Linked DNA regions of Homo sapiens: region 1 is linked to region 2. The links come from fine-mapping of genetic effects on gene expression. A gene starts in region 2. The other region holds a variant in brackets. All regions are shown on one strand. Distances are from middle to middle.

Region 1 (10,206 bases), 54 kb after region 2:
CAGCCGGGCATGGTAGCTCACGCCTGTAATCCCAGCACTTTGGGAGGCTGGGGTGGGAGGATCACCTGAGGTCAAGAGTTCGAGACCAGCTTGGCCAACATGGTGAAACTCCATCTCTGCTAAAAATACAAAACTTAGCTGGGCGTGGTGGCGCACGCCTGTATTTTGATTACAGGCGTGGTGGCACATGCCTGTAATCCCAGCTACTCAGGAAGCTAAGGCAGGAGACTCTCTAGAACCCAGGAGGCAGAGGTTGCAGTGAGGCGAGATCACGCCATTGCACTCCAGTGTGAGAGCTCCTGAGTGACAGAGCAAGACTCCGTCTCAAAAAAAAAAAAATTAATTAATTAATTAAAGATGGCAAGTTGTAACCCAGTAATCTTGGTTCCTAGCATTTGTCATGTACTGGACTGAGAAATACAAAGGATAAGAAATACAAAGGATTTGTATTTCCAACAGCTTAATACTACACAATCAATTCTAATAAAAAACTACTTCTACCTGTCACCAATTCACTTAAAATTTTGAAGCACAAGTTTTAAAAGGAACATAAACACGCTAGGTTGGGAATCTGGACTTGAGGCAAAGCCAGACCTTTTTGCCTAAAATATATACCTCGAGGATCTCACCAGAAGTGTGCATCAAGCTGAGGACATTAAGAGTACATTACACAAGCTGGCCCCAGGGTTAAGTTCAGAACTTATCAGTAGGTACACATACTGAATACATCACACACAGGCATACCTCGATTTATTGTACTTCACAGATATCCCAAGTTTGTTACACAAATTGAAGGTTTGTGGCAACCATACATCTAGCATGTCTTTTGGCACCATTTTTCCAACAGCATGCGCTCACTTGGTGGCTCTGTGTCACATTTCCGTAATTCTCACAACACTTCAATTTTTTCTTATCTGTTATGGTGATTTGTGATCAGTGACCTTTGATGTTACTACTGAAATTGTTTTGGGTGCCATGAACCATGAGACAATGAACTTAATAATGTTGTGTAGGTTCTGACTGCTCTACCAACCAGCCATTGCCCACCTTTCCCTCTCTTTGGACCCCCCTATTCCTTGGAACACAACAATATTGACACTGGTCAATTAATAACCCTACAATCACCGCTAAGTGTTCAAGCTGAAAGGAACAGTCACATGTCTCTGGCTTGAAATCATTAGAAATAATCTTTTTTTTTTTTTTTGAGATGGAGTTTTGCTCTATCACCCAGGCTGCAGTGCAGTGGCGCGATCTCGACTCACTGCAACCTCCACCTCTCGGGTGCAAGCGATTCTCCTGCCTCAGCCTCCCAAGTAGCTGGGACTACAAGCACCTGCCACCACACCGAGCTGATTTTTGTATTTTTAGCAGAGATGGGGTTTCGCCATGTTGGCCAGGCTGGTCTCGAACTCAAACCTCACGTGATCCTCCCGCTTCGGCCTCCCAAAGTGCCCAGCCAATTAGAAATAATTAAGCTTAGTGAAGAAGGCATGTCAAAAGCTGAGATAGGCCAGGAGCTAAGCCTCTGGCACAAATAGCCAACTTGTAAATACAAAGAAACAATTCTTGCCAGACATGGTGGCTCACAGCTGTAACCCCAGCACTTTGGGAAGCTAAGGCAGGAAGATCACTTGAGTTCAGGAGTTTGAAACCAACCTGGGCACCATAGTGAGATCCTGTCTCTATAAAAAATTTAAAAATTAGCCAAGTGTGGTGGCTTGCGCCTATAGTACTAGCTACTTGGGAGGCTGAGGCAGGAAGATCACTTGAGCCCAGGAGGTCAAGGTTGCAGTGAGCTACAAATGCATTGCTGCACTCCAACCTGGATGACAGAACTAGACTCTGTATCAACAACAGCAAAACTACTGAAGGAAATTTTAAGTGCTACTCCTGAGAAGAGAAAAATAGTAGGCTGGGTGTGGTGGCTCCCATCTGTAATCCTAGAACTTTGGGAGACCAAGACGAGAGGATCAACTGAGGTCAGGAGTTCGAGACCAGCCTGGCCAACAATGTGAAACTCCATCTCTACTAAAAATACAAGAATTACCTGGGCGTGGTGGCGGGCGACTGTAATCCCAGCCACTGGGGAGGTTGAGGCAGGAGAATCGCTTGAACCTGGGAGATGGAGGCTGCAGTGAGCTGAGATTGTGCCACTGCACTCCAGCCTGGGCGACAGAGCAAGACTCTGTCTCCAAAAAAAAAAAAAAAAAAAAAAATAGAGTAAGAAAGCAAAACAGCCTTATTGCCAACATGGAAAAAATTACATGAATAGAAGATCAAATCAGCCACAACATTCCCTTAAGCCACAGCCAATCTAGAGCAAGACTAACTCCTTCAATTCTATGAAGGCTGAAAGAATTGAGGAAGCTGCAGGAAAAAAGTCTGAAGCTAGCAGAGGTTGGTTCATGAGGTTTAAGGAAACAAGCTGTCTCTATAACACACAAGTACAACTTGAAGCAGCAAGTGTGGATGTAGAAACTGCAGCAACTTATCAAGAAGATCCTAAGATGAAGGTGGCTACACTAAACAGATTTGCAAAGCAGACAAAACAGCCTTCTATTGGAAGAAGATGCCATCTAAGACTTTCATAGCTACAGGTGAGGAGGCAATGCCTGGCTTCAAAGCTTCAAAGGACAGGCTGACTTCATTAGGCACTAATGCTGTTGGTGACTAAGTTGAAGCCAATGCTCATTTACCATTCTGAGAATCCTAGAACCCTTAAGAATGATGGTAAACTACTCTGCCCGTGCTCTACAAATCGAACAACAAAGCCTAGATTACAGCACTCCTGTTTACAGCATCGTTTATGGAATATTTTTTATTTGTTTATTTTTACTTTTTGAGATGGAGTCTCACTCTGTCGCCCAGGCTGGAAGTACAGTGGCACTATCTCAGCTCACTACAACCTCCGCCTCCCAGGTTCAAGCAGTTCTCCTGCCTCAACCCTCCGAGCAGCTGGGATCACAGGCGCCTGCCATCATGTCCGGCTAATTTTTGTGTTTTTAGTAGAGATGGGGTTTCACCGTGTTGGCCAGGGTGGTCTTGAACTCCTGATCTCAGGCGATCCGCCCGTGTTGGCCTCCCACAGTGCTGGTATTATAGGCGCAATCCACTGTGCCCAAACGGTTTACCAAATATTTTAAGCCCAATGTTGCGACCAAATGCTGAGAAAAAAAGATTCCTTTCAAAATACTACTGTTCATCGACAATGTATCTGGTCACCCAAGAGCTCAGATGCACAGGTACAAGAAGATGAATATTGTTTTCATGCCTGCTAACACAATGTCCATTCTGCAACCACATACATCAAGCAGGAATTTCAACGTTTAAGTCTTATTATTTAAGAAATATATTTTCTTTTTTTATTCCCCTAAGAAATACATTTTGTAAAAAAAAAAAAAAAAAAAAAAAAAAAAGAAAAAGAAAAAGAAAGAAAGAAAGAAAGAAAAAGAAATATATTTTGTAAGGCAATAGCCACAGAGTGATTTTTCTGATGGATCTGGGCAAGGTAAACTGAAAAGCTTCTGGAAAGGATCTACCATTCTAGATGTCATCGGGAACACTCATGATTCATGAGAGGAGGTCAAAATACCAACATTAACAGTTTAGAAGAAGTTGATTACAACACTCAAGTATGACTTTGAGGGGCTCAAGACTTGAGTGGAGGAAGTAACTGCAGATGCGGTAGAAATAGAAAGAGAACTAGAGGCTGGGTGCAGTGGCTCATGCCTGTAATCCCAGTACCCTGGGAGGCCGAGGCGGGCGGATCACCTGAGGTCAGGAGTTCGAGACCAGCCTGGCCAACATGGTGAAACCTCATCTTTATTAAAAATTCAAAAAAATTAACTGGGCATGGTGGTGGGTGCCTGTAATCCCAGCTACTCAGGAGGCTGAGGCAGGAGAATCGCTTGAACTAAGGAGGCAGAGGTTGCAGTGAGCCAAGATCGTGCCATTGCACTTCAGTCTGGGTGACAGGAGTGAAACTCCATCTCGAAAAAAAAGAAAGAGCAAGAGAACTAGAATTAGAAGTGGAGCCTGAAGATGTGATTGAATTGCTGCAATCTCATGATCAAACTTGAACAGATGAGAAGTTGTTTCTTATGGATGAGCAAAGGAAGTGGTTTCTTGAGATGGAATCTACTCCTGGTGAAGACACTGTGGACACTGTTGAAATGACAACAAAGGATTTAGATTACATAAACCTAGCTGATAAAGCAGCAGCACGGTTTGAGAGGATTTACTCCTACTCTGAAAGAAGTTCTACTGTGGATAAAATGCTATCAGACAGCATCACATGCTACTGAGAAATCTTTTGTGAAAGGAGGAGTCAATCAACGTGGCGAACTTCATGTTGTCTTATTTTAAGAAATTGCCACCGCTACCCCAACCTTCAGTAACCGCCACTCTGATCAGTCCACAGCCATCAACAGAGGCAAGACCCTCCACCAGCAAAAAGATTATGACTCACTGCAGGCTCAGATGATTATTAGAATTTTTTAGTAATAAAGCATTTTAAAATTAAGGTATCTACATCTTAACAAACCACTCTAAAATGCACTGGCTTAAAACCATAATTTATTACTTTTTTTTTTTTTTGAGACAGTGTCACCCAGGCTGGAGCGCAGTGGCATGATCTCGGCTCACTGCAATCTCCACCTCCCAGGTACAAGCAATTCTCCTGTCTCAGCCTCCTGAGTAGCTGGGACTCCAGGCACACACCAGCACACCTGGCTAATTTTTGTATTTTTAGTAGAGATGGGGTTTCATCATATTGGTCAGGCCGGTCTCGAACTCCTGAGCTCAAGTGATCCACCCGCCTTGGTCTCCCAAAGTGCTGGGATTACAGGCGTGAGCCACCGCGCCCAGCCCCAGCCAGTACTCTTGACTGCTTAATCAGAGCTGGAGAGTCTCAGATGGCTTCACTCGTACCTGGAGCCTTAGTGCTGGTTGTTGTCTGCTTGCTCTTTCACCGCCCAGTCCTTGGTGTTCAGTAGTCTAGCGGGGGCTTCTACCATGACAGAGGGAGTGTTCCAAGTGGGCAAAGGCAAAAGCTGCAAGGTCTTCTGAGGCCGACTCTGGACCTTGCACAATATTACTTCCACCACATGCTACCGATCAAACTAAGCCGCAAGTCCAACCCAGCTGCAAGGAATAGGGAAGTTGACTCCAGCTT[T/C]GGATAAGAACTACAAAATATTGTGGCCATGGTGTTTTATCTACCACACTAGATGTGGCAGAGGCAGTTATGCTTCCTAGTCTAGAGCAGTAATTCTCAATTCTGGCTATACATTAGAACTGCCTGGTGAGCTCTTAAAAGTCCTACACCATGGCTCTACCTCATAACAAATGAGAATGTCTAGGAGTGGACCCAAGGCCTTAGTAGTTGTAAGACCTCCCCAGGTGATTCTCATGTGCCGCCAGAGTCAAGATCTATTCATACCACAGGTTTGGGGAAACTTTAGTTTACATACAAATCACCTGGAAATCTCATTAAAAACATTGTAATTTAGTAGGTCTGGGGCAAGGTGAGTCTGAGATTTTGCATATCTAAACAAGCGCCTAAATTAGGGGTTGTCAAACTGCGGCCTATAGAGTGGATTTGAGTCTCCAACTAAGAATGGTTTTCACACGTTTAAAGAGTTGTTTAAAAAGAAAGAGAAAGAATATGCGACAAAGACCACATGCGGCCATATTTTCTATCTGACCTTTTACAAACTAAGTTTGCCAAACCCCTGTCCTAGATGATACCCAAACTGCTAGTTCATGAACCACTTGGAATAGCAAGGAGCTAGAACCTGATTCCTCACTCTTCCAACAATACTTGTACTTAAATTAGAATGGTTTGTTGTCCCACAGATTAATCCTATCTAGGTAACCAAATAAAGAATTCCAATACAAATGTTTCACTACGACTTACTCCCAGCATCCATGCCCTCTTCTCCTTTTCCAAACCATACTCTAGAATTTCCAGCCATTTCATTTGATGAGACACACCAAGCCCACGATTGGCTTAAGCCAAATTTCACATCCCATTCCTTGGCAACTTCAAGGGATTCAAGGATGGGCACCTGTCCCAAGTTAGGCCAATCTGGTCCAGTGAAATTCAATTTCAAGATTTTGTTTGTGATAACGGAGAAGACAACTTTTTTTTCTGCTAGATTTGCACCTAAAAATATATAGCCCCAAGAGCTGCTGGCAGCCATCTTATAACCACAAGGAGATAGCATGCTGAGAGAATAAAGCCAACATTTAGGAAACAGAGACAAGCCATGGAGAAAATGGTGTCTGGTGACAATTTGAGACACTGGACTTGTCTCGCTAGAAGCCAGTCCTACCTCTACACTTTTGAACTTCATAAACCAATAAATTCCCCTAATTGTTTAGGTCAGTTAAGAGTTTGGTTTTCTATTGGAATAAGGATGCTTTTAGATGTAGTATGTTTATTACATATTATATAAGGTACATTTTCTCTTTTTAATGAGCTTTCATTTTAAATTTCCTTTTTTTGGTGGGCGGGGGGAGGTCCTCGCTCTGTCACCCAGGCTGGAGTGCAGTGGCACCATCTCAACTCACTGCAACCTTCGCCTCTAGAGTTCAAGTGATTCCCCTGCCTCAGCCTCCCAAGTAGCTGGGATTACAGATGCCTGCCACCAGGACTGATTTTTTTTTTTTTTTTTTTTTTTGTATTTTTAGTAGAGACAGGGTTTCGCCATATTGGCCAGGCTGGTCTCGAACTCCTGACCTCAGGTGATCTGCCTGCCTCGGCCTCCCAAAGTGCTCCCAAAGGATTACAGGAGTGAGCCACTGCACCCAGCCTTAAATTTCTTAAAGTGTGAAACAAGCAAAAGCATGATAAATGTCCCTAATTGCAAATGTTTGCTATCTTATTCACAGGTTTAGGTTATTCACCTCTTCCCAATCAGATGGGTATATAAGACAGGGAAATAAATTACTTACCTGAATAAGTTGGAAAACAAAGTGAAGCGCCGCAATAAAATGGATGGGGATGGGAAAGAGGGTCCCTTGAGGCATATGACAACTCACGACAGCAGGCCTGCCTTGACTCTGCTGCTTTGGTCCTTCTGCCAGGAACTAGTGATTTGGGGAAGCAATCAAATGTGCTCAAAGTGGGAGGATGTCATGAATACTTAAGTTGCCACCAGCCACAGTTATAGTTCAGTTTTTTTTTTTCCGTTTTTAAGACACAGTTTTGCTCCTGCTGCCCAGGTTGGAGTGTAATGCCGTGATCTCGGCTCACTGCAACCTCCGCTTCCCGGGTTCAGGCGATTCTCCTTCCTCAGCCTCCCAAGTAGCTGAGATTACAGGCGCCTGCCACCACACCTGGCTAATTTTTGTGTTTTTAGTAGAGAGGGGGTTTCACCACGTTGGCCAGGGTGGTCTCGAACTCCTGACCTCAGGTGATCCACCCACCTCAGCCTCCCAAAGTGCTGGGATTACAGGCATGAGCCACTGTGCCTGGCCAGCTCAGACTTTTTTTTTAATACAATCCTATAACTTTTAAGAAGAAAAAGTTACACCAATATATGTGTTCACCTAATAGTTACAATACAGTCTCATAAATGTTTTGGTTTTTTATTTTTTGGGTCTTTTTTTGAGACAGGGTTGCACTCTCTCACTCAGGCTGGAGGACAGTGGCGCCCTCATAGCTCACAGCAACCTTCACCTTCCGGCCTCAAGCAATCCTCCTCCCTTAGCCTCCCACGTGGCTGGGACCAGAGGCAGCACCACCATACCCACTAATTTTTTTTACTTTTTGTAGAGACAGGAGTCTCCCTATATTGCCCAGGCTGGTCTCAAACTCCTAGACTCAAGTGATCTTCCTGCCTCAGCCTCCCAAAGTGCTGGGACTGCAGGCCTGTGCCACCGCACAGCCTTTGTGCATTTTTTTTTTTTTTTTTCAGATGAAGTCTTGCTCTTGTCCCCCAGGCTGGAGTACAGTGATGCAATCTCGGCTCACTGCAACCTCTGCCTCCTGGGTTCAAGGGATTCTCCTGCCTCGGCCCCCCGAGTAGCTGGGATTACAGGCCCCTGCCACCGTGCCTGGCTAATTTTTGTATTTTTAGTAGAGACGGGTTTTCACCATGTTGGCCAGGCTGGTCTAGAACTCCTGACCTCAGGTGATCCACCCGCCTCGGCCTCCCAAAGTGCTGGGATTACAGGCGTGAGCCACTATGCCCAGCCTGTGCATTGTTTTTAAGAGTGCAACGGTAAAGACAATACAACTTAAATATACAGGTCAGTGTTAATGTTTATGTTACTCAAGATTTGTATGAACAAATTAAGTAGAAATGGCCTAATGTTCAAATGGAGACAAAATGTGTCTAAGCACACACAATTGATTAGATTCATTCCACTTAAAACAAAATAGAGCCCGAGGCATGGTAGTGTGTACCTGTAGTCCTTGCTACCAGGCAGGCTGACGCAGGGGGATCCCTTGAACCCAGGAGTTTGAGGCTGCAGTGAGCTATGATAGTGCCACTGCACTTCAACCTAGGTGACAGAACAACTCGCCTCTAAAAAATACAAAAGATACTGGGCGGGAGGATGGATTCTACATAAACTCTGGCATAACAAAATTATTTTCTTGACCCCATCGTGAGTTAATAGATGGTCAGTTAAAACAAAATATAATATATACGATTGACTAATATGTCAAGTATCTTACTTAAAGATATTTTGAGGCTAGGCATGGTGACTCAAGCCTGTAATCCCAACACTGGGAGGCAGAGGCAGGCAGATCACTTGAGACCAGGAGTTCGAGACCAGCCTGGCCAACACAGCAAAACCCCGTCTCTACAAAAAACACAAAACTTAGCTAGGCATCATGGTGGTGCATGCCTGTAATCCCAGCTACTCGGGAGGCTGAGGCAGGAGAATCGCTTGAACCCGGGAGGCGGAAGTTGCAGTGAGCTGAGATCGTGCCACTGCACTCCAGCCTGGGAAACAGAGCAAGACAATGTCTCTAAAAAAAAAAAAAAAAAAATATATATATATATATATATATTTATATATATATATATATATATATTTATATATATATATACACACACACATATATATACACACACATATATACACACATATATACACATATATACACACACATATATACATATATGCACATATATACACACACATATATACATATATATGCACATATACACACACATATATATAGAGAGAGAGAGAGAGAGAAAGAGAGAGACTATCATCTCAATATAAACTTTCCATACAAACGGCAAGTTTTTTAAAAATATAAAATGTTAAGTGTTACAATTCAACTATTTTCTTCCCTTGGATAGTTTCATATAACTGGCAAATTAAACAGGTTTCCACTTTCAAGCCTCAAACCTTGGTAACAGTAAAGTTTACAAGGAGCCCAAATAAGATTTTTTTCCCCTTTTGTGTAAAAGGCCAGATAGAAGATATTTCGGTCTTTGTGGACTACTGAAATCTGTCACATATTACTATTTTTGTTTTACAATCCTTTAAAAATGTAAACCATTCTTGGCTGGTGGGCCGCCTTGGGCCTGCAGTAGTTTTCAGACCCTAGTATCACCACCTAGAGTGCTTGTAAAATGCAAATTCCTGGTCCCACTTCAGGCCTATTATTAATACATCAAATGACACGGATTGGGTCATTCTTCTGCACGCTAATTTCAAAGCCATAAGAAGTCAACATATAGCTAATAAAGGTTATATATAAGGTAAACTGATACTATTAACTTTAAGAACTTATTACCAGAGGCAAATGCTCTATTTCAGGCCTACATTCTCATGTATATTTTTTATGCAACCACGAAAATGTCATTTTCAAACTTTCTATACAAATGGCAAGCTTTTCAGACATTAAATACTAATCTTCAACATTTCATGTGTTTCTGGTTCACTGTTTCAAATGGTCTTTATACTCAATTTTTACTAGAGGCTCATTAGTTTTCTTTTGCTTCCCCTTCCTAAAACCAATACGGTGATGTGTACATAAATCTTAAATGTTTAACACACTTCCTGTTGCTTCCTAATACACGTACAGTATTTATTTATTTTACATGGAGTCTCACTCTGTTGCTCAAGATGAAGTGCAATGGCACGATCTCGGCTCACTGCAACCTCCGCCTCCCAGGTTCAAGCCATTCTCCTGCCTCAGGCTCCCGAGTAGCTGGGATTACAGGCGCCCGCCACCATGCC
Region 2 (10,206 bases):
TTGGCAGCTGCAAAGCTGGGGCACCACTGGGCAGGCTGCGTGGGCAGGGAATGGCTGTGTCCATGGCCAGCACTGGGGTGCCAGGAGGAGAGCTAGGCCGGGGCCCCGTCAGGTAATTTTCACTCCCGAAGCCGCGAGCTTCTGAAGACCAGCTGCCCAAACCATATGCTGCTCTGTTCCTCCTGCGGAAGCAGGTCCTCCCCTGGGCGCGCCCTTCTGTCCCCAAAACACTTCACATGCCCACGCTGAGCCTTGGGCCTGGCATCCTGAGCCCGCTGCCCTGAGGTGGCTGCAGGGGTCTCAGAGCAGGAAGCCACCAGAGCCACAGACGACAGCAATCCTGGCGGCCGCCAGAGGAGGAACCCGGGGCTGGAGCCCAGATGGGAGAGGGGACCTTAAAGATGGAATGGGCAGGACCCGGTGACTGCCTGGAGAGAAAGAAAACAGACTCATGGCTCAGGCCAAGATTAGTAAGAAATACAGGCCTCCCTGCCTGCTGTGCCCCCATACAGTGCTCAAGCATGTTCCGGCATCAGCCCCGGACAGAGGATTGGGAGGCCTGGGTTCTCAGCCCAACATGGCTTCAGACACATTCCTCAACTTCCCTGAGCCTCAGTTTCTTCTGAAAAGTGGGGCTGCTGACCCATGTGCCTGAGGCTGTTGTGAGTCTTCGTTTCGGGCACTCAGTAAAGTGGGGCCAAGTCTTGTGGAACTTGAATATCAGCCCTTTAACTGCCCCACCTAGGCAGGAAGGAGGGAAGCAACCAGGGAGCAAGGACTGCCTTCCAGAAGTGGGCGGGGCTAGCAACTGGGCCAAAGATGCCCAATGGCCCAGAGAGAATTCAGAGGGGGCCTGTCAGGTGGAAGGAGCCAGGCTGGATGTGGGTAGGACCTGCTGTGCCCATGTGGCCAGGCAGGCAAGGCAGATCAACTCACGTGCAGACCAGAAGCCAGCAAGGCAGGTCCTGCAGGGGTGAAGAAGCTGAGGCCCGGGGATCCTGGGTACTCCCTCAAGAACCTTGAGTTAGGAGTGGCCTCACATCTTCAGGATTCCTGGCTCTGTTCGTTTCCTTGGCTTTCTGAATTTCTTAAGTTTGCTTAGATGATGTACATCTTACAAGACAAGGCTGGAGGGAGTGGCTTGTATCAGGTCCCAGAGCTGGAAGGTGGGGGTCCCAGAGGCCCACTGGCATGGCGCTGGGAGGGTCAAGTTCAACAGTGATCCTGTGTTTCTGCCCGAATTGGGGGCAGGGGTCCAGGCAGCCAAGCTCTTGCTATTCCTGCTTTTCGGATGAAGAAAGGGTCAGAGAGGCTGACCCAGCCAGGCGCGGTGGCTTAACGCCTGTAATCTCAGCACTTTGGGAGGGCAAGGCGGGCAGATCATGAGGTCAAGAGAACGAGACCATCCTGGCCAACATGGTGAAACCCCGTCTCTACTAAAAATACAAAAATTAGGCCAGGCACAGTGGCTCATGCCTGTAATCCCAGCACTTCAGGAGGCTGGGGCGGGCGGATCACGAGATCAGGAGATCGAGACCATCCTGGCTAACACGGTGAAACCCCGTCTCTAGTAAAAAAAAAAAATACATAAAAATTAGCCAGGCATGGTGGCGGGCGCCTGTAGTCCCAGCTACTCGGGAGGCTGAGGCAGGAGAATGGCGTGAACCCGGGAGGCGGAGGTTGCAGTGAGCCAAGGTTGCGCCACTGCACTCCAGCTTGGGCAACAAAGCAAGACTCCATCTCAAATAAATAAATAAATAATACAAAATAAAAATACAAAAATTAGCTGGGTGTGGTGGTGGGCGCCTGTAGTCCCAGCTACTCTGGAGGCTGAGGCAGGAGAATCGCTTGAACCCGGGAGGCGGAGGTTGCAGTGAGCCGAGATGGCGCCACTGCACTCCAGCCTGGTGACAGAGTGAGACTCCGTCTCAAAAAAAAAAAAAAGAAAAAAAGAGAGGCTGACCCACCTGAATTTACACACCAGGAGGTAAGAACCCCAACAAGCCCCGACTCCTGTCTGTCAAGGCTTTTCCACAGCTGGCCTCAGGACACAGTTCAAGAAAGCAAGTGACTCCAAGGAGGCAGCTCTTAAGGGATGAAAACCCATGGGGGCTACAAATTTGATCTCTGGGGCAAGTCACACGGGTTCCACTCCCTTCTCTGCCATTCAGAGCTGTGCCAGCCACTCAGTTTCCTTGTCTGTAGAATGGGGACGGCAAGCACTACACGAAGGCTGCAGGGGGCTAACCTCAGGGAGTGCTGAGCCTGGTGTGCGTTAAAGCAGAGAAGGCGACAGCTAGTACCTTCACCGTCACCAGAGCTGGGAGGGCCCGGCAGGACATTCACTCACCACATGTTCCACACAGATGAGGGATTGCTTTTTTTTTTTTTTTTTTTTTTGAGATGGAGTCTCGCTCTATTGCCCAGGCAGGAGTGCAGTGGCTCTATCTCGGCTCACTGCGTCCTCCACCTCCTGGGTTCAATGGATTCTCCTGCTTCAGCCTCCCGAGTAGCTGGGATTACAGGTGCGTGCCATCACGCCCAGCTAATTTTTAGTAGAGATGGGGTTTCACTATGTTGGCCAGGCTGGTCTCGAACTTGGGATCTGCCCATCTCATCCTCCCAAAGTGCTGGGGTTATAGGGGTGAGCCACCACGCCCGGCCTAATTTTTATATTTTTAGTAGAGACGGGGTTTCACCATGTTGGCCAGGATGGTCTTGAACTGACCTCAGGAGATCCGTCCATCTCGGCCTCCCAAAATGCTGGGATTACAGGTGTGAGCCACTGCGACCGGCCTCTTTTTAACTTTAAAATAAAAAAAAAGTAACTTCTGTGATAAGCATCCTTACAGCTAAATCTTTGTTCATATCATCATTTCTTTGGGATAAATTCCTAACTGTGGAATTAAAGAGCCAAAAAGTATGAACTTATCCCCCCAATTTTATTAGTTTTAAAAACCAAGCTGGGCACAGTGGCTGATGCCTTTAATTCCAGCACTTTGGGAGGCTGAGGCAGGAGGATCGCTTGAGCCCAGGAATTTGAGACCAGCCTGGGCAACATAAACCCCATCTCTAAAACACACACACACACACACACACACACACACACACACACACACACACACACACAAAACCCCACATGTAGTGCCCACCTGTGGTCTCAGCTACTCGGGAGGCTGAGGTGAGAAAATCACTTGAGCCTGGGAGGTTGAGGCTGCAGTGAACTGAGATCATGTCCCTGCACTCCAGCCTGGGCAACAGCAGCAACAACAACAAAACAAACAACAACAAAAAAACCCCCCAAAAACCCAACTGTATCAAGGCATTATTTCCAAACCATACAATTCATCCATTAAAAACATACAGCTGGATGACTTTTGACAAATGTAACCACTTGGGTACCACCACCATTATCAAGACACAAAGAACATTCCATGTCCCCAGGAGGAGGCTCCCTCATAGGTCGGCACTTTGTAAGGAACTCGCTGGGGGACAGTGGTTGCAGGGTGGGTCTTGCATTCACTGACACGTCCTCAAGCTGAGCCGCCAAAGCTGGAGTGGGCAACACTGAGCCGCAGCGCTCAGGCCCTAGACTAGCCAGCTGGAGGGGCCTGAATAGCGGAGAGTCTGGAAGGCCAGGGGTCCTGAGCGTGCAGCGCATTCCAGCGGCTGAAGTTCTAGGCACCAGAGCAGGGCAAGGGGTGGAGCTTGCAGGGAGACAGCTTCAGCTCCGGGAAGGAAGCGCTTTCTGTCAGTTACAACAGTCTGCCCATGGAGCGAGCTGACTTGCATGGCGCTGGGCTCCTCTTTACTAGGGATGTTCTAGCAGAGGCTTAGCTTTTATTTATTTGAAGCAAGGTCTTGCTCTGTTGCCTAGGTGGAGTGCAGTGGCACAAACACTGCTCACTGCAGCCTCGACCTCGCAGGCTTGAGGGATCCTCCCACCTCAGCCTCCCAAGTAGCTGGAATCACAGGCAGGCACCACCACGCCCAGCTAATTTTCTATTTTTTGTAGAGGCAGGGTCTCACTATGTTGCCCAGGCTGGTCTTGAACTCCTGGGCTCAAGTGATCCTCCCACCTAAGCTTCCCAAAGTGCTGGGATTACAGGTGTGAGCCACCATGCCTGGCTGGCTTAGCTTTTAGAAGGAGTCCCTCATCCGGGCATGGTGGCTCATGCCTGTAATCCCAGCACTTTGGGAGGCCGAGGCAGGCGGATCATGAGGTCAGGAGTTCAAGACCTGCCTGACCAACATGGTGAAACCCCATCTCTACTAAAAATACAAAAAATTAGCTGGGCGTGATGGCACACACCTATAATCCCAGCTACTCAGGAAGCTGAGGCAGAAGAATTGCTTGAACCTAGGAGGCGGAGGTTACAGTGAGCCAAGATGGCGCCACTGCTCTCCAGCCTGAGCGACAGAGCGAGACTCTGTCTCAAAAAAGAAAAAAATCAAAAATAAAAATAAAAATAAAAATTAACTGGGCATGGTGGCACAAGCCTGTAATCCCAGCTACTCGGGAGGCTGAGGCAGGAGAATTGCTGGAACCAGGGAGGCAGACATTGCAGTGAGCCGAGATTGCACCACTGCACTCCAGCCTGGGTGACAGAGCGAGACTCCGTCTCCAAAAAAAAAAGTTAAAAAGATAGGCAATACATGGACATGTTACAAAGGCAAAAAAAGCAATCGTTCAAAAGAGCAGAGTGAAAAGCCTTCCACCCCTGGCAGTCCCTATCAAGTTCCTCTCCCTAACGGTACCATCTCCTCAGACATCCATCAGGGCATCCTGTGCTTATTTGAGCATATGTGTGTATATTAATACCCCTTTTTAAAACACAAATAGCCTACGTGCTGCTGGGCACCTTGCTTTTTTGGTATGCGTATATTTAAGATCCGCTGGGTTTCAGTATCCCATTTCATGGCTGTGCTATAATTAACCAGTTCCCTACATCAGCAGGACAAGGGGTTTGTTGTACAATGTCTCCACCTATCTTACGCTCCTGAGCTCCCACCCTACCTTGTAGGATACCTGTAGGGAAAATTCCTAGTAGTGAAATAGCTGCATCAAAGGAAAAGTAGTGCTTTTAATAGTCCCACATTAGAAACACCCTAAATAGTCAATGGTAAGGAAGTAGATAAATAAAACTTGAAGATATAAAGGCATATCCATAGGATAAAATACTGCACGTTTATTAAAATTCATGTTGCAGAACATGTAGTAACACGGACAGACTTCTACAACTGGTGAAAAAAGTGTACAGTAAGAATCTAACCACGTAAAAATATATCAGTGCATATGCACCAAATGCACATTACGGAGTAGAAAGAACTCGTCTGGGGAGGGATCAAGGAGATACGTATTTTGTTGTAATTTCTGTACTTTCCCATTTTTCTACAGTATGAATTACTTTTGTGGTAAGAGGAAAAAAGGGAGAAAGCCCTCGGCTGTCCAGGAGCAGAGCTGGGCTGGGAGGTGGGGAGGGCCCGCGGACCCGTTCTCCCTGAAAGCCCCTGTCACAGTGGGACTCTGAAGGGCTCACCCACACGGGACCCTGCGCTCGGTCCTCACCACCAACGCCCGCACACTAGGCAGTGACCGGAGAGAGCTGGGGGACATGGCCTGCGCGCACCCCTCGCACGGCTAGGCCCGGCGGTGGGAGTTAAAGGGAGGCCGGTTCCAACTCGGCTGAAGGCAGGCCATTCTGACGGCTGCCCCCAGGAGGGCGGCTGCGAGGGCAGCGGTGCGCTCCCGGCACGGGGGTGCTCGAGCACTGAGTCCGGGCATGGAGCAGCGAAGGCGCCGCCTGCAGTGCCCACGGACCAAACGGGGGTGACCTCTGAGGCCGCCGGCAGCTCCGAGGTCGCGTGGGATCCGGGCTCCAGGCGCCTCCGCTCTGCCGCCCACCCCATCCCTCTGGCTCCGGGCCTCCGCGTCCTCCCACCACAGGGTGGGGACTCGTTGCGGTCCCTACCCAGCCCATACCTGTACGACGTGGTCACTGCTGCAGCCGCGTCCGCGTCGCCGATGGGCAGCACGTAGACCCCGCGGGCGCCGGGCGCAGGTGGCGCGGAGGACTGCGCGGAGGATTTGCCCCTGCGGCCGCCCGCCCCCGGTCCGCGCCCCGGCGGCGGATCCTTGGGCCCGGCGGGCGTGGTCCACAAGCCGAAGTCCCGCTGGTACTGAGTGAGCGGCACGTCCCGGCCGGAATCCCGGGCGCCCGCGGGAGGCTGGCCCCTGCGCGAGGCGGCGCCGCCCGTGCCCGGCTCCTCGCTGTCGAGGTCCGAGTAGCCGTGCAGAGTGAGCGGCACCGCCACGTCGGAGCGGTCCAGCTGGTTCCAGCGCCGCGCCAGGCAGCACAGGCGGCTGATACAGGGCCACGCCATGCCAGCCCCGGCGCCCGCCGCCCCGCTCCCGGCGCGCGGCGCTCCCGGCCGCGCCTCCTGCGCCCAGCGTCCCCGCCCCCGCGGCCCGCCCCGCGCCGCCGCAGCACCGCCCCCCGGCACGAGGGTGGGCGTCCCGGGAGGGGGCGCACTCGGCGGCAGCCCCACTTGGCCGGGGCCGGCTGCGCACGGCTGGAGCTGGAGGGAGCGCGGATGGGGGAAAGGCTGCACCGTCGCCAGGGGGCACCGGAAACCGCCTGCATTCATTTACAAGTGTCCATCTCGAAGAATGCCTCAGAATTGAATCCAAAGTTCCCTCAGTGTCATCTTATAAATGGCCCCGGCTTCGCAGAGGCCAAGGGCCCGATGGTCGCAGCTGGGAGCAGTCCGCCAGCCGGGAGGTTCTCCATGTGGCCTCGGGACGCCCAGCGACTGCTGCATTTGTGCCAGGCTGCACCGCATGGACTCCGCGGGCACAGGGGCAGGTGCAGCAATGAGGGTGTCAGAGAAGACTCGGGGCCCTGCTTCCCGGAGAACACGTGTTTCAGTCAGCCTGTGAGTCGCCGCCTATTTGCCTTTAGGATGCTAGTCTACATTTGTGACAACCAATCCACTTTTCATTAGAATTGGCATTAGCCACCAATCGACCTTTCCCTGGGTTCTGAAATTCCTAATTTTAAAGCATGGCCATTTGCAAAAGCTTTAGTTTGATAAAGCGGCCACAGAACTGGCCACAAGGCTATCAAGTTCCTTTCCTCCTGTGCATGCATGGCTGTTTTCAGGCAGAGCTGTTGAGGGATCCTCCAGCGTAAAGGCAGGTCTGTTCAATGCAGGACACCGTCTCAAACAACTCCCTGACCACCCACAAACGCTTTTCTGAATATTTGACACATGCTCTCGGTATACACTGCAGACCAATTACTAATAACACTACTGAGACAGCATTAATTACCCAGAGCTCCATTTCAAGGTTGTACTTGGAAGGTATCCAGTCTGCGCCTGGGAGGGGACTGCAGCACATCCCTGGCCAGTCAGAAAACAGATTCATCTCCCAAAACATTGCCTGTCTTAGCTTGAAGTTGTAGCAAAGTGACATGACGGCTGCCTAGAAGTGGCAGCAGGTCAGCTGAGCAGGCCAGGCCATGTCCCAGCAGGCAGCAGGCGAGGCGCCAGGTGTAGAGGGAGATCCTGGAAAATGACACACAGGGGCCGGGTCAGAGTGAACTCTTTGTGGACTGTCCGCCACGGCCCTGGGTTAGCCAGCCTGGCAGATGGCGCTTGGGACTAAAATTCTCCATCTCGCAGGAAAAGAGAGCAGCTCTCTTTTTATTACTTCATTGATCAAACAACAGTCAAAGAGCAGTTGCTATGTGCTAGGAATAATTCTGGGTGCCTTCAGGAGGTTTAGTGTGGTAGTGAGGGACGGAAGGAAGTGTAATTGAACTGACAAGGCCAGGTCAGCATGAGAGGGAGGCAGGCTGGGGAAAGCTGGACTCGCCACCTGTTGTGAGGGAGGGTGGTTGGGCCAGGTGGGAATGTAGGTCACGGGGGAGGAGGGTTCAGCTGAGGTAGCAGACCATGGAGGGTCTTGGTGGCCACACTAAGGAATTTTAGCTTTTCATATGGCCGGGTGCAGATGGCTCATGCGTGGAATCCCAGCACTTTGGGAGGCTGAGGCAAGAGGACTGCTTGAGCCCAGGAGTTTGAGAACTGCCTGGGCAACACAGTGAGACCCTGTCTCTACAAAAAACTTTTAAAAATTAGCCAGGCGTGGTAGTGTGTGCCTGCAGTGCCAGCTACTTGGAGGCTGAGGCTTGAGCCCAGGACTTCAAGGCTACAGTGAGCTATGATTGCACCACTGAACTCCAGCCTGGACGAGAGAGAGAGAGAGAGACCCTGTCTCAAATAAATAAAAGTTTTTCACAGGTGACAACAAAGGAATGACAGACATGTTTTTAGCACTCTGGCAGGCATATGGAGAAGCACAGGGTTGCTTTGGAGACCAGCTGGAAGAACAGGCTCAACAGTCCAGGGACTAAGAAGTGAGGACCACCACGGAGTCACAGGCACTGGGAAGGCTGAGGGGCTGAATTCTAGAAATAAGAGGCGAGAGAGGGAGATCTCGAATGGCTCCGGGTTTCAGACTTCACCGATTGCTCGTGTCACTCCTTAAGCCGAGTGCTATTTGAGGGGCCTGTGCAGGGCGGGGGGGTGGTCCCAGAGCCTGGAACCATGCGTGTGTTGCAGTAGACACATTTACTAAGAGTACAGAGAGATTCTGTGGGTCTGGAGCTCAGAATCCTCACAGATAACTGAGGCTTCAGCAAGTGCACCCACTCAAGAAGTGTATGGAATGAGGGAGACGGCAGCCACGGCATGTTCCTAGGTACCCCACACTTCAGATGCCAGTGGAGGCGGCACAGCCCAAGAGGCCCACGGGCCAGGGAGTGCATGGCCTTGAAGGCAGTGATCGCGGGTCCCCAGAGAAGCCAAGAGGAGAAAGTGAAGCACCCTCGTGGGCAATCAGGAGGGAGCTGTGGACAGCAAGGCTTCTCCGGCCACAGCCAGGTTCTGGCCTCCCCAGGCCATGCACAGAGGCTCCAGCATTGAGGGGTTTTAGGGACCAGGAGATGCTACAGGGACTTCTAACTTTTTCCCAGTCACAAAGCAGGGACACAGAGATGTCTTCATTGCCTCTTTGCCTGGTCTGCCCAAAGCACGATGTGAATTAATGTTGGGCTCTAGAGGGAATGTCCCTATGAACTCAGCCTCCTATCCCATCTCTGGAAAACGCATCTTGCCTCATCTGTGTTGCAGAGTTGTTAGCAGATGTCAGAGCAAAGCATTGTGACCTTGGGCAGTGCCCCTACACCACGTGTGCCGTTTCCTCGCTGGCAAAATGATGGCTAAGATAACTCTCTCCCCTAGAAGTGATACGAGTTTAGAACAGAATCCTGTGCCTGGGAAGAATAACTGTAAATCATAGTAGAAACAAGTCCAGCCTGATGGAAGAAGGATATGAAGGACTGCCAAATACTGGACAATTTCTATGTGCTGGGCGCGTGCTGCCATGCAGTTCTCACTTGCCTGGTGAGGTGGGCACCACTCCCACTCCTTTTCCAAAGCCGCCATTCCCATCCCCCACGGCACACAACCTGAGTCCGATCGGCCACAGGAGGCTGAAATCAGGGCCTTCGATCCTCCCAGGACAAAGCTGCAAGACTTGGTATAACATTTTGAAGCCATCAAAAGACTAAAAATTCTCCTGTAAATGACTTCAAGAAGAACATACTCTCAAACTGCATTTCCTAGATGTCATTCTCAGTCACGAGGGTAACATGAATTCCACAACAGTGAGGCTGTGACGACGACAGCCACTATCTGCTATTTCAGTGAGACGCTTCAATTAGAACACTTTCAAACAGAAGATAAAATTCGGCTCAGATTCAAGTCTGAATTTACCCAAATCACTTCTTTCTACCTCTTAATTTATCTACAAATTGAACCTAGAAAGCAAAACCTGAAAATAGCTTTTTGTATATGCCACTCACTGCCAGAAAACACTACCTTTCCTGAAAATTGAGAAAATACTGCAGCTGTTATTTCAGATTGTGCTGGAGAGGGGATACTCTCGACTTTTATGTGCAGCCAACCCAGGGGAGGGGGAGGCAAGGAAGAGTGAAGGCTAAGCAGAGGCACTGGAGGGTCCAAAGACAGGCAACCAGCGCCTTCATGTTCTGATCAGGCCTTTCAGGGTGCACTCTCCCCAGGTCCTGTCAATGCAACAACCAAAGCAAAATGCCAGAGCCGTGTCGGCCCCTTAAA

The links. PIP is the estimated chance that this variant, and not a neighbour inherited with it, causes the effect.
Region 1: its variant is fine-mapped to the expression of MAP6D1 in whole blood (TOPMed, PIP 0.97).

Annotation. Positions count from the first base shown.
Region 1 is chr3:183,873,223-183,883,428 of GRCh38, forward strand. All of the region lies in intron 1 of PARL (presenilin associated rhomboid like), which reads right to left. Among named protein-coding and RNA genes, the nearest start is that of PARL, 6.6 kb to the right of the region's middle. The variant T/C (reference allele first, on the strand shown) is at 5,174.
Region 2 is chr3:183,819,164-183,829,369 of GRCh38, forward strand. It overlaps MAP6D1 (MAP6 domain containing 1), which reads right to left and starts at 6,414. Exons shown (of 3, transcript NM_024871.4): 1 at 5,984-6,414. The coding sequence starts at 6,384. PARL (presenilin associated rhomboid like) reads right to left here. Exons shown (of 10, transcript NM_018622.7): 10 at 10,108-10,206. RefSeq lists silencers at 5,992-6,121, 6,142-6,211, 6,272-6,621.